Linked DNA regions of Homo sapiens. The protein of the gene in region 2 interacts with the protein of the main gene of each other region in a biochemical or structural test. Each region holds a gene or a part of one and is shown on either strand. Other genes may lie near its edges. The genes, in order: DAB2, LRP8 and MAPK8IP2.

The links.
Region 1: the proteins of LRP8 (region 2) and DAB2 form a complex in vitro, tested with the Homo sapiens proteins (one study listed by BioGRID).
Region 3: the proteins of LRP8 (region 2) and MAPK8IP2 form a complex in vitro, tested with the Homo sapiens proteins (one study listed by BioGRID).

Annotation. Positions count from the first base shown.
Region 1 is NC_000005.10:39,414,914-39,418,562, forward strand, and holds part of DAB2 (disabled homolog 2), read right to left. Parts: intron 1-3,649. UniProt on the Homo sapiens protein: Adapter protein that functions as a clathrin-associated sorting protein (CLASP) required for clathrin-mediated endocytosis of selected cargo proteins.
Region 2 is NC_000001.11:53,255,043-53,258,691, forward strand, and holds part of LRP8 (low-density lipoprotein receptor-related protein 8 isoform 1 precursor), read right to left. Parts: intron 3,430-3,649; coding exon 3,277-3,429; intron 2,423-3,276; coding exon 2,198-2,422; intron 1,440-2,197; exon of another isoform or gene 1,086-1,439; intron 214-1,085; exon of another isoform or gene 144-213; coding exon 75-143; exon of another isoform or gene 55-74; intron 1-54. UniProt on the Homo sapiens protein: Cell surface receptor for Reelin (RELN) and apolipoprotein E (apoE)-containing ligands. LRP8 participates in transmitting the extracellular Reelin signal to intracellular signaling processes, by binding to DAB1 on its cytoplasmic tail.
Region 3 is NC_000022.11:50,603,731-50,607,379, reverse strand, and holds part of MAPK8IP2 (C-Jun-amino-terminal kinase-interacting protein 2), read right to left. Parts: intron 3,543-3,649; coding exon of another isoform or gene 3,540-3,542; coding exon 2,316-3,539; intron 2,013-2,315; coding exon 1,937-2,012; intron 1,819-1,936; coding exon 1,646-1,818; intron 1,556-1,645; coding exon 1,446-1,555; intron 723-1,445; coding exon 615-722; intron 460-614; coding exon 389-459; intron 1-388. UniProt on the Homo sapiens protein: The JNK-interacting protein (JIP) group of scaffold proteins selectively mediates JNK signaling by aggregating specific components of the MAPK cascade to form a functional JNK signaling module.

The DNA.
Region 1 (3,649 bases), on a different chromosome or scaffold from region 2:
GAGTGACAAAATAGACATGGTCTCTACTCTAAAGGGGCTTAGAGGTTAGGTAGGGGAGAAAGAACAAGCAGGTCACAGTTATAACTGATGCTATGTGTTTTGGAGGAATTGTTTCTGATTAGGGTAGAAAGCTTCATTGCTGTTAATAATACTTCATAAAAGGAAGAAAAAGTAGTATTACATCAAGGAATTATATATAAATTGCTGTATTGATATCAATTATGGAAAGATGCAAATGTTGTCTGAAGGGTTAATAACCCTCTTCAACAATTTTTAAATTATGACACAAATTGAGGGGATATTTACATTTAATATTTATGAGTCTCCTATAACCACGTTACAATCTGAAGGACCATCTGTATGGCAGTAACAGAAGGAAGCAATTCTGTTATACCTGAGGGTATTGAAGAATTTCAGTGATGTTTCCTTCAGAGTTATCATAAGATCCAAAGTTCTGAATCAACACTATCTTCATAAACACCAGAAGGAAACACTATGCTCATTTGGCATTCAGTCTGGCATTCACTTAAGAAGTACAAGCAATTCAGGGAACTTCTGTATTCTAGAACCAGACATGTTCTGTGGCACTTTTAATTACCAGATTTTCTAAGAATACAACGTGTCACTTTCAGATCAGGCCAAACATTGAACCTCAGATTTCAGTGAAACAATCTTATGAAAATGTAACCAAGGGTCCCTACAGCTTGCTTTAGTTATTTAAAGAGCACTACCAAGTCACAAGAGCATTATCAAGGGGCTACCAGGCAGCACTTGGTCAATGTCAGTCTTCAAGGAAATGGACTTCATGATCAATACAAGTAGTGAGCCCTCCACAAATGTTGGCCGCATGAAGTGTAAGAGTCCAGATCCTAACACAGAACATGGTTGTGCCCACTGTTTCTATGAAAGAGTTCTTGTGCAGAAAACTGAACATTTGCATCACTATACACTAAGTGGGAACAGCATTACAGAATGTACTTCGTATGCAGATATACCTAAAAGATCCACAACAGTACTGTCTGCAGCTTAGAATGAAGCTAAGATTTTATCCTAAACTGTTCATGTTTAATGAATGAGTCAAACCTCTGAAAGTCTACTTTTCATAATTACCCTTTATTTTCACACCTCTCCTCCCTCCCCATCATATTTTTTTTTTTACTTAGTTCCAGCATTTTTCCTCAACCTTGCCTCACCGCCACCCTGAGTTCCTCCTCCCTAAAAAGCTATACCACGTTGTATCATACATGTCCCTCATGATTAGCGGACTTATATTATGGTGTTTGTTGATCTTTTCTACACACATAGCATAAGTACTCCTTAATATATTTAAAACACTTGAAGTGAAAAACAAACAAACAAACAACTCTTTATGGGATGAGCTCTTTCTTCCATTTTCTCCAAAGGGCTTCAGTGAGAATCTAAGGTGTAAGAGACTCTGGTTGTAACTGATCTCCCTTTATGGCTAAATTTTTGTAGGAGTGTTTACTGGCCTCCTAGCTTTCCTGATTTTGAATTAATCAGGTATCGGTGTTCAATTCCTCCATTCACATTCAAGCTGAGATTCAAAGCCCTTCTAATCAGGCTGTGGACTATACATATACATGGCCACCTGCTCTCTGAAGAGGCCGTTGTCTTCTGTTTCCCCTAAACAGACACATAGACACACCAGACCTTCTTATGTGGTCTGCTAGCCTGTAATATGTACTGCCTTCACCTTCTTGAATTTCGTGAAAACCTTCATTCCAAGGCCACTCAAGATGTGTGGTCTCAGGGAAGTCTTTACCGGCCTCTTACCAGCCATTTCCTCACATTTGCCATGACCTATCATTGCCCTCTGATTCATGTAGAGCTCTTCTCTCAATTCAATAAAGCTTTTGGGATCCGAAAATTATTTGCCCTACTTTTCTAGGCTCGACACAGTCTGTTAATGAGCAGTGCGCTTAAAACATTAGGGGTAATAAATATTTCTTTTTGCACCTTAATCTTAGGTTAAGCAACCCTTTTCTCTACTTTGATGATTTTTGAAGAAATATAGGCTTTTCTTCAACTACTAAGCAATCTCCACTCAAACACATTCTGCCAATAGAGCCAGGTTAAGTTATCCCAATCAGCATTTGGTTTTCCTGCTTTAATGACGGATCTGCTTGGCAAACACCGCATATTCTCATTTGTAAGTGGGAGTTGAATAATGAGAACACATCAACACAGGGAGGGGAACATCACACACCGGCGCCTGGTTGGGGGGTAAGGGGAGGGATAGCATTAGGAGAAATACCTAATGTAGGTGATGGGTTGATGGATGCAGCAAACCACCATGGCACATGTATACCTATGTAACAAAACTGCATGTTCTCCACATGTACCCCAGAATCTAAAGTATAAAAATAAAAAAAAAAAATCAAAATTCTTATCCTGACATCCATGGCTCAGTATAATTCATCCCTACTTTTCAAACTCAGACACTTCTCAGCCCTATGCCACCTGTACTGTTTCTTGGCCAAACTGACCAGTCAGAGTTCTTTAGGCATATCCTAAGTTCATCCAACTGCATGATTTGCATATGCGCTGCTGCCTAAAATGCATTTTCTCTTCTTACCTTTGCTTATTTGACTTCCATTGTTCCTTTAAAAGCCAAATCCATTAACACCAATGGCCTTTTTCTCCCTCTGGATCCACACAACACTCTGTACCACTTAACTACAATAAAATCATATGTTAGTTGAGTAGTTACTATTTTCTCTAACTATCTTATAGGCAGCTCTTGTCATATATGTGTCCCTCTAAGGTAAATATTTGCACCCAACTTTCAATTACTATCAACTTTTAGTCATTGGGAACTTCAGACCAGTTAGACAAATCAGAAATCACAAAGAACAGGTTTTCAGGCAGTTAAGCAAGCATTTCTGCATCAAGCTATCCTTTAGAAGACAGCGTGGACATTAAATATAACTGTCTATCATTTCAATTCTAGTACATGTATGCTCTCTGAAAAGCCTCAGCTATAGTTGAACCTTAGCCCAGGCAGAAATCAATATTGACCCTCCTTACTAGCAACCAACAATTGATGGAAAAGCCTGTTCTATCAGCTACATACTTGTTTTTTCTACTTCAAAAATGAATTGCATTTAAGTCGCTTAATTTTAGAGGTAAAGGGGGCAGGGAGCAACACAAAACAAAATCAAGTAACAACAACAACAAAACCTAATGCTGATATAACTAAAGCACAGCTGACCCTTCCCTTTAAAGGATGGATATTTGAGCACCTACTATGTGTAGCCACAGCAACTTCTGATCTTCTGACTCAGAGGGCAGTTGTATGTTGCCCTAGTAGATTCACATTTCGTCCCAAAGCCAAACTGGTATAGCATTCTTCATATGATTATGTCAGCCCTCTGACATATGTTCAAACACATTTGGTTTATTTCTGTTGCACTAAATGGTAACAAAAAGCACGTTAGCATCTGTATTACATATTACAGAAAACTAGACCAGGTCTTGGCCCCCTAATAGGACACTTAAAATATAAAAAAATAAGTGAGATCATTTGGATGCAATATTTAGAACCGAGAGGGCAGCTGTGTTCAATATGGACACAATTAGGGATGAAGTTATTCACTTTCCAGTTCTTTGGGTATGGATTAACTATAGA
Region 2 (3,649 bases):
TACCCTGCTAGCGCTCTTCCCTAGGCCTAAGCAGGGTCTCTCTTTTCTCTTCAGTGACTGGGGGCCACACTCACCTATGGGCACGATGATCCCGATAACAGCGGCAGTGACTGTTGAGCCCATCTTACTGTCTTCATTTGCATCTGCAAAACACAAACATTTGCAGAATGATGCTCTATCACTGTGTGTCCAAGCCCCTACTGGCCTCAAGTGGTAAGAACTACCCAACTGCTGCTCATCCTCATTCTAAAATGATGATCCTGGCTGTTGCCTAATAATTCAGTCTTTCCAGATCCTATCACAACTCCTGTGAGGCAAGCAGGACAGAGGTTATCTCCATTTTACAGGCAAGGAAACTGAGTCTTAACTGAGGGGTTTCAGAAAAGTGGCAGAGCTGGGACTTGAACCCAGGACTCATGTCCCAAGTCCCATACCCTTTCCATAGCATCATGGTAGTAGGAAGCTGGGGGCTGTGCATGGCAAAGTGAGCACTTAGGTCTTTATGTTGCTGATGGACTAGGTCATTTGCCTTTTTCCATCAGTATCTGTTGCTTTGCCAGTATTGTTTTTTGTGAACTGTCTGTCCATCTGCATTATCAGATTATTTTTCATAAGTAATTGAAATGGGACATAGTATAGTGTAGAGGAATCAAAAGCGCAGACTTCTGTGTCAGACTTCTGGGTTCAAGTCCCAGCTCTACTACTCACTACCCATGTGACCTTGGGCAAATTATTATATATTATAAATACAGCACATGGTATTATACTTTTATATCTTTAAAATGGTGATATTACCTACCTCCTAGGGATATGGTAAGGATTAAATGAAATAATTTATCTAAAATGAATATAAAATGCTTGGCACAACTTTGCCTAGTTCTAAGAGGGTGGAGAGTGGGATGGGGTTGTTGAATAGGGTCTAAATTTTAAAAAGATATGTAAAAGCACATTTTAAACTGAAAAGTGCTTGGAAAATTTACTGTCTTTTTGAAAAACTATGCCATGCCATCTTTCTCACTCTTATAACCATCTTCATTGTAACATTTGTGAAGCACTTTATAGTTCAGAAAGCATTTTTCCCTTAGATCCTCCTGACAGCTCCCTGTGGTGTGAAAAGGAGCTATCATCTACACTTGCTGCAGGTGAGATGACTGTCCCGGCAATGGCCCAAGGCCCATCCTCTCTCAATGTGACTGTTTATCCATGTTACTCCAAGAGAATCTAACAGTTAAGGGGAGAAAAAGCTGCACTGCTTGCTTCCAGAGCTAACTGTGTCCTCCCTGCTGTCCTCCCTGCTCTGGGCCACAGCGAACACTGGACAGTGATATTAAAACCTAGAGCATGAGGAAGCCAGTGAGGAGAAGCTGGTGAGAGGCTCTGCCCTCAGATGAGAGGAACTGGAATTCACACATGCTCCATCTGCCTCTGCAAACTTCGGAGTAAGTGCTCCACTCCAAAAAGCCAGCTTCTGCTGGCAAATAGGACCAGTTAGGAAGATGTTGCCAAGCAGCTTGGTTTCTGGGCTGTCCATGTAGGGGAAAAAATTAAAAAGATAGTTTATCCTTTTAAATGAACTCCCTCTGGCAGGTAACTCAATTAAAAAGGTATTTGCTGATTAATGAGATAGAACATTTCTAGCAGTGACAATTACTGCTCCCAATGATTTAATAAGTGGTGAACTTAATTATTTTCATCCCAGGGTTGGAAAGAGGTATAAGGAGACCATGGTTGTAGATATTACTATCTGGGGACCTGCTGTGAACTGAGATCAGAGCTTTCCAAACACAAGGGACACCTCCTCATATACACATCAGAACTTTGTGAAACATAGACACACACACCCTCGCAGAGTCAGCAACGGCTGTGTGCGTGAGCACCTCCAGTTATACCGGTTACACCTTTGTCTATCATGGCAATCTTGTGAAGCAGGTTGTGGAAGGGTGGTTATTTCCACTTTGTAAGAGAAGCAACTGAGGCTCACAGGGTCTCAGCTTCCTACAAGACCCTCTGTAAGGTAGGGGCACCTATGAGTCCTAAATCGCAGGCTGGTACTCTACCTCCCTCTCAGATATGCAGTAACCTCCTCAAAGATATGCAGTATTCAGCTCTGGTAGGTTCTGTCTTATCACATACCCCCTTCCTGGCTTCCCTAGGAGCCCTCCCATGTCATGAAAGAATGCAGAACTCATTTCCTTACAGTGCTGGGAGTGGTTGCTGGTTGCAGGGCTTAGGGTAGACGGGCTGATGCTGGGAGCCCTGGGGACACTAACTGAGCTTGGGACTGCAGCTGTCAGGCTTGGTGTCTCTGTGCTGTGGTTCTGGTAGGTGGATCTGTGGACGGTGGTCCCGGGGGCTCTTGTGGTGGCAGGTACTGTCCTCGTCATGGTAGAAGCTAACGTCGTAGTTGAGGTAGATTGAGGTGCTGGAGGGGAAATACCATGGAGGTCACTTGGACAGATAATTTTGTTGCCTAAGGTATTGCCTCTGAGATATACTTAGGAACTTATCTTCATGGCGTAGCTCAAATGCCACTTCTGTGAAGCCTTTCCTAATCTCCCCAGTGGGCTATGATCTTTTCTTTAGCTGAATGCTAAGCACTTCACTTTGATTCAATAAAGATGAGTCATTAAAACATTGCTGTGGAATTAGTTGTAAGATCAGCAATAAAAAGACTGTAGGGAGGGGAAATCAGATAAATCTAGAAGGATTTTACACTCATATATTGTTATACCAATAGATTGAAATTCTTATTCCACTTTAAACAATTGAACCTGTAAATCATTAATAATGCAGTAGACTTAGGCTCAAATGAAAGGCCTTGGCTATACATCAAGATTAGGACATGAATCTGTGTATGCGGTTGAAGTATTAACTATTAGTCCCAATTATATTGCAAAAGGGCTGCTGTGTAGTGTTTGTTAAGTTCTAGGTGAGAAACAGGCAAATATATAGTTATCTGCATGTACCTGAAGCCACGGCGATTAAGGGTTCTTAACTTGAGGTTTTTAAAGCGTTCCAGAAACTCCCTGAAACTGAATTTAAAATGTTTTATGTATATGTGCATTTTTTCCTTGGGAGTGAGAAAAAGCTTTGGAAGGATCCTGGGGGCATGAGCATTCAAGGAAGGTAAAAAAGAGAAACCCCCAAAAGGCAACAAGTAACCAGGGAAGATGGAAGAAAACCAGCAGCATACTGTGTCCCAGAAGCCAAGGGAAGATTTCAGCAGGGTAGGGTCTGACACTGCCAGGGGCCATCCCTCCTGGAAGGTCTGCTTACCTCGGTAGCACCTCTTCATGTCTGGACCCAGCCACATTGTGTCAGGACAGGCACATGTGTACTTGGGAGAGTGGCTGGAGATCTGAGGAGCAGGAAGGCACAGGTATTCACAGCCTCCATTAGGCTGGACACTCAGCTCACAGGCATCTGGAGCTAATGGCAGAGAGGGAGACAGCTGGGGCACAGACAGGACATGCCAGGTCTTCCTGCCTCCTGAGGATGAGGCTTCTCCCACCTGGCTTGCTCAAAAAGCTTGCCCTATACTTTTTTTTTCACATTTTTTTTCTTTTTCTTTCTTTTTTTATCCCCCAAAGCTTTTGGGATACACGTTTTTTGTTACATGGATGAATTATATAGTGGTGAATTCTGGTAC
Region 3 (3,649 bases), on a different chromosome or scaffold from region 2:
CGACCAGTGCATCCCACACCCTTGGCTCAGCTAGACCCCACCAGGAAGATCCACTTCCCCACCGCTGTCACCTGCTGTGTTTCCAGGCTGGCCATCCTGAGCCCCAGGCCCACTCAGGCGTCCTCTGCACCCACACAGGCTTCTCACATCCTTCGCCCGTGTGCCTCTCTCCACCCAGACTGGATGCAAGCCTGTCTGACCCACGCCTCCTGAGTCCAGCTCAGAGCAGGCGCCACTGCAGGCTCAGCTCACAGAGCTAAGTGGGTGCAGGTGGAGCTCTCAGGGCTGGGCACGGGCAGCCCTCAGGGTCTGTGGGGACTCAGGGGGCGGTTGGACTCTCAGGGTTTGTGGGGGCGGTTGGGGGACTCGGGGACGGTCAGACTCTCACCAGCTGTTGCGGGGATGGCAGCCGCAGAAGGAGATGTTCTTCATCTGGAAGAAATGGCTGCAGCGCTGGAACTAGAGCAGAGGTGGGCAGAAGTCCCTGTGTCAAAGGAGGCCTGGCGCCACCCCTGCCTCCCACCTACTGGACACCCCTGCCAGCCTGGCCCCGTCGGACTCCGTGGCCTAACCCTATCCCCCAGTCCCCGGTCCCCAGTCCCCCACACTCCCACCTCGGGCCCTCCTCCGCTCAGACTCAGCTTGACCCCCCGAAGAGAGATCTCGAGGTCACAGGAGGCAGGAGGGCGCAGGTGGACGGTCAGTTTCCGGGCAGTGGCAATCTACAGAAGAAGTTGGGGGAGAAGAGGGTCTTGAGGAGCCCACAAGGGCCTTTCTTTCCCCTTGGTGGGACTACGCCTCTGCTCCTTTTAGCTTATGTTTGAGGACACACATGCTGAGGACCCTGAGATGCAATTCTGGAAGACATAAGGGGTGTGGCCTTGGCCACTCCTCAGGCTCAGGAGGAGCAATCGCCTCTCTGCAGTCAGCTTGCTTCATCTTCCTTCTGCTCCTCCAGGCAGGCTGCTGCGCTTGGCTCAGGAGCCAGGAACAGAGACCTCACCCGCCCTGGGCTGCTCTGCCCTGCTCCCTACTGCCCCCCAGCCTCAGCCTCAGTACTGGTGCCTGGGCAGGTGCTCACTAAACGTCCACTGAGTGAGTGGATGAGTAGAGGGCTCCCAGGGAAGGGGCTGTGAGGGCTGGTCTTGATTCCAGATGGGAAGAGGAAGGGCTGATGGCAGTCGGGGCCACCTGGAAGATCTGTGGCCCAGAGACCCAGAGGTGATGAGGGACAGCTGCTGTGCTCTGCCCTAGACTCACCTGCTCAGGCCTCTGAACCAGGGCCTGGGGTACCCACCCCGAGCTCCCCCTGCAGCATCCCCCAGACCCTCCCTGGAGGAAATCAGACCTCAGACCTTGGAGCCTCAAGCCCTGTGCCAGCCTGCAGTGCTGGTGTGGCCGCCAAGCGGACCCTCAGCCTGCACTTGCCCGGCCTCCACACTGACCTTCTGCATGGCTGCACACAGGATGCCGTTGCCCTGGTGGCAGGGCACCTCCACGGAGCCCAGGAACTGCACGTCAAAGCGCTCCACCCAGCAGGGGCTCCGCTTACTCCCTGGGGAGCGGGGCACAGAGGGCCCAGGTCAGGCAGGGGCACAGGGGAGGATCTGGGGTGAAAAGCCTCCCCTCGGGGTTGGGACCTCACCCAGCAGGTCCTTGGCAGGGCCGGGCACCGCATGGGCGTAGAAGGCAGGAAACACACCGCGCTCCCCCGTGCGCATGTTGAAGCCACGGAACCAGAAGTCGTCCTCCTCGGCCTCCACCAACACAGGGTCATCCACATCCAGCTCCAGCTCGTCTGGATGCCGCGGGATGAACCTGCCGTTGGGGGAGAGGTCACTGGGGAGGGGGGCGGGATTGACGGTCGTGTCCACTGGCGTTCCGTGATGGCAGGGACTGAGGCTGGGGCCACCGCCAGCAAGGAGGGAGGCCGTACCTGAACACAGCCCGGTGAGTCTGCTCTCGCTCCTCGCCGTTGACCAGACAGGAGAAAAGGCCAAAGGACTCGGTGCCTGGGAGACCCGGCAGGACAGAGGCGGGGGAGACAGGGAGACAGAGTCAGAGTAGTGCTTAGAGGCCTGGCCTTGGGCAGAGGCCAAGTCCCCTCCACAGTCCGGTGTAGGTGTCCTACGAGCGGGAAGGAGCTGAGGCAGAGCAGGCCACCTCATGCCATGTCCTGGGTGGGAGAGGGCACCCAGCCCTGACCACAGCCAGACCCTCAGGTGGCCCTGGGCACTGTGGGGGACCCTGGGACTGGGGCCAGGGAGTCTGCACCTTCCTCTGGGCCACCCCCCTTTTCCCCACCTCTCACTCACTGGAGGACCGAGATGTGCTGTTGACGAAGACATTGAGGAACTTCTTGGAGAAAGTGAGGTCAGGGCTGTCCGGCGAGGTGTCCCCCGAGACCTGACCGCCGCCTAGCAGCGCCGCGCCCGCCTCCTCCTCGCTGGCCTCCCCGCCGCTGTCCTCTTCGCTGTCGTGGCCCAGCCCAGCACAGCGCCGCAGGCTCACCAGCTCCAGCTGCGTGTGCTCATCCACCACCAGCGTGTACTTGACCGCGTCGTACACCAGCGACGCGTCCCGCGGCGCCGAGGGGCCCGTGCCCCTGCCCCCGGGGGACCCCGCACTGTCCTCGGCATCCTCCTCTTCCTCGTCGTCCTCTTCGTCCTCCTCCTCGGAGCAGGCGGCGGAGCAGGCTCGTCCCGGGCGGGCGGCGCGGCCGGGCGCGGCCCACAGCGGCGTGATGGTGTCACGCGTGGGGTTGCTGAGGAATAGGCAGGGCCCGGGCTGCGCGGGGCCGGGTCGAGGCGCGGCGGGCGCGGGCGGCGGCGGCGCGCACAGCGTCTCCATGTCCACCAGCTCCACGCCGCCGGGCCCCGCGGCCGCCTCGGGGTCCTGGGAGTCCTGGGCGGCCCCGCCGGCCGGCGACACGGGCTCCCCGGGCGGGCGCGGCGCAGGAGACAGGCACTGGCCGGGGCAGCGGATGGGCGAGGAGCCCTCGGAGATCATGCGGCTCACCAGGTTGCTGAGCAGCCAGGGCGAGTCCGCGTCCTCGCTGAGGTCCGGCTCCGACTCCGACCCCGACTCGTACTCGCTGTTGGTGTCGTCGGGGCCCACGGGCAGGAAGGCGGGGCGGCGCGGGGGTTCGCGCGGGGGCTCCGGCTCCGAGGCGGGCGACGAGGCCTCCTCGATGGAGTTGGTGAGGTGCGAGGAGCGGCCGCTGCTGCTGCTTCCGCCATCGCTGCTCAGCTCCAGCTCCGTCTCCGAGATGGACGAGATCATGCGCCCCAGGCGCGCGCCGCCCGCGTCCTCCGAGTCGGAGCCGGGCGAGGACAGCTCCTGGCTGCTGCGACGTCCCCCGCGGCCGCCGCTCGAGCGGCTTCTCAGGTCAGCCTCGATGCCGGGATCTGAGGAGGGCGAAGTCCCCCCTGGCGCAGGGGGTTCCGCAGGCCGGTTCCCTTCGCAGTCGCAACCCGGGCGCACTGGCGACTGCGCCCCGCCGGGCCCGGTGTCCGTGGCAGGGAGGGGGCCCGGGAGCTCTGCTGGGCAGGGAGGTGGGGTCACCCTCTCTGCACCACCCAGGCCTCTTCCAGCAGCCAGTCCATCCTCCCTGCCCTCCTCCCCCGCTTCCCCGCGCCCCGCGGGCCCA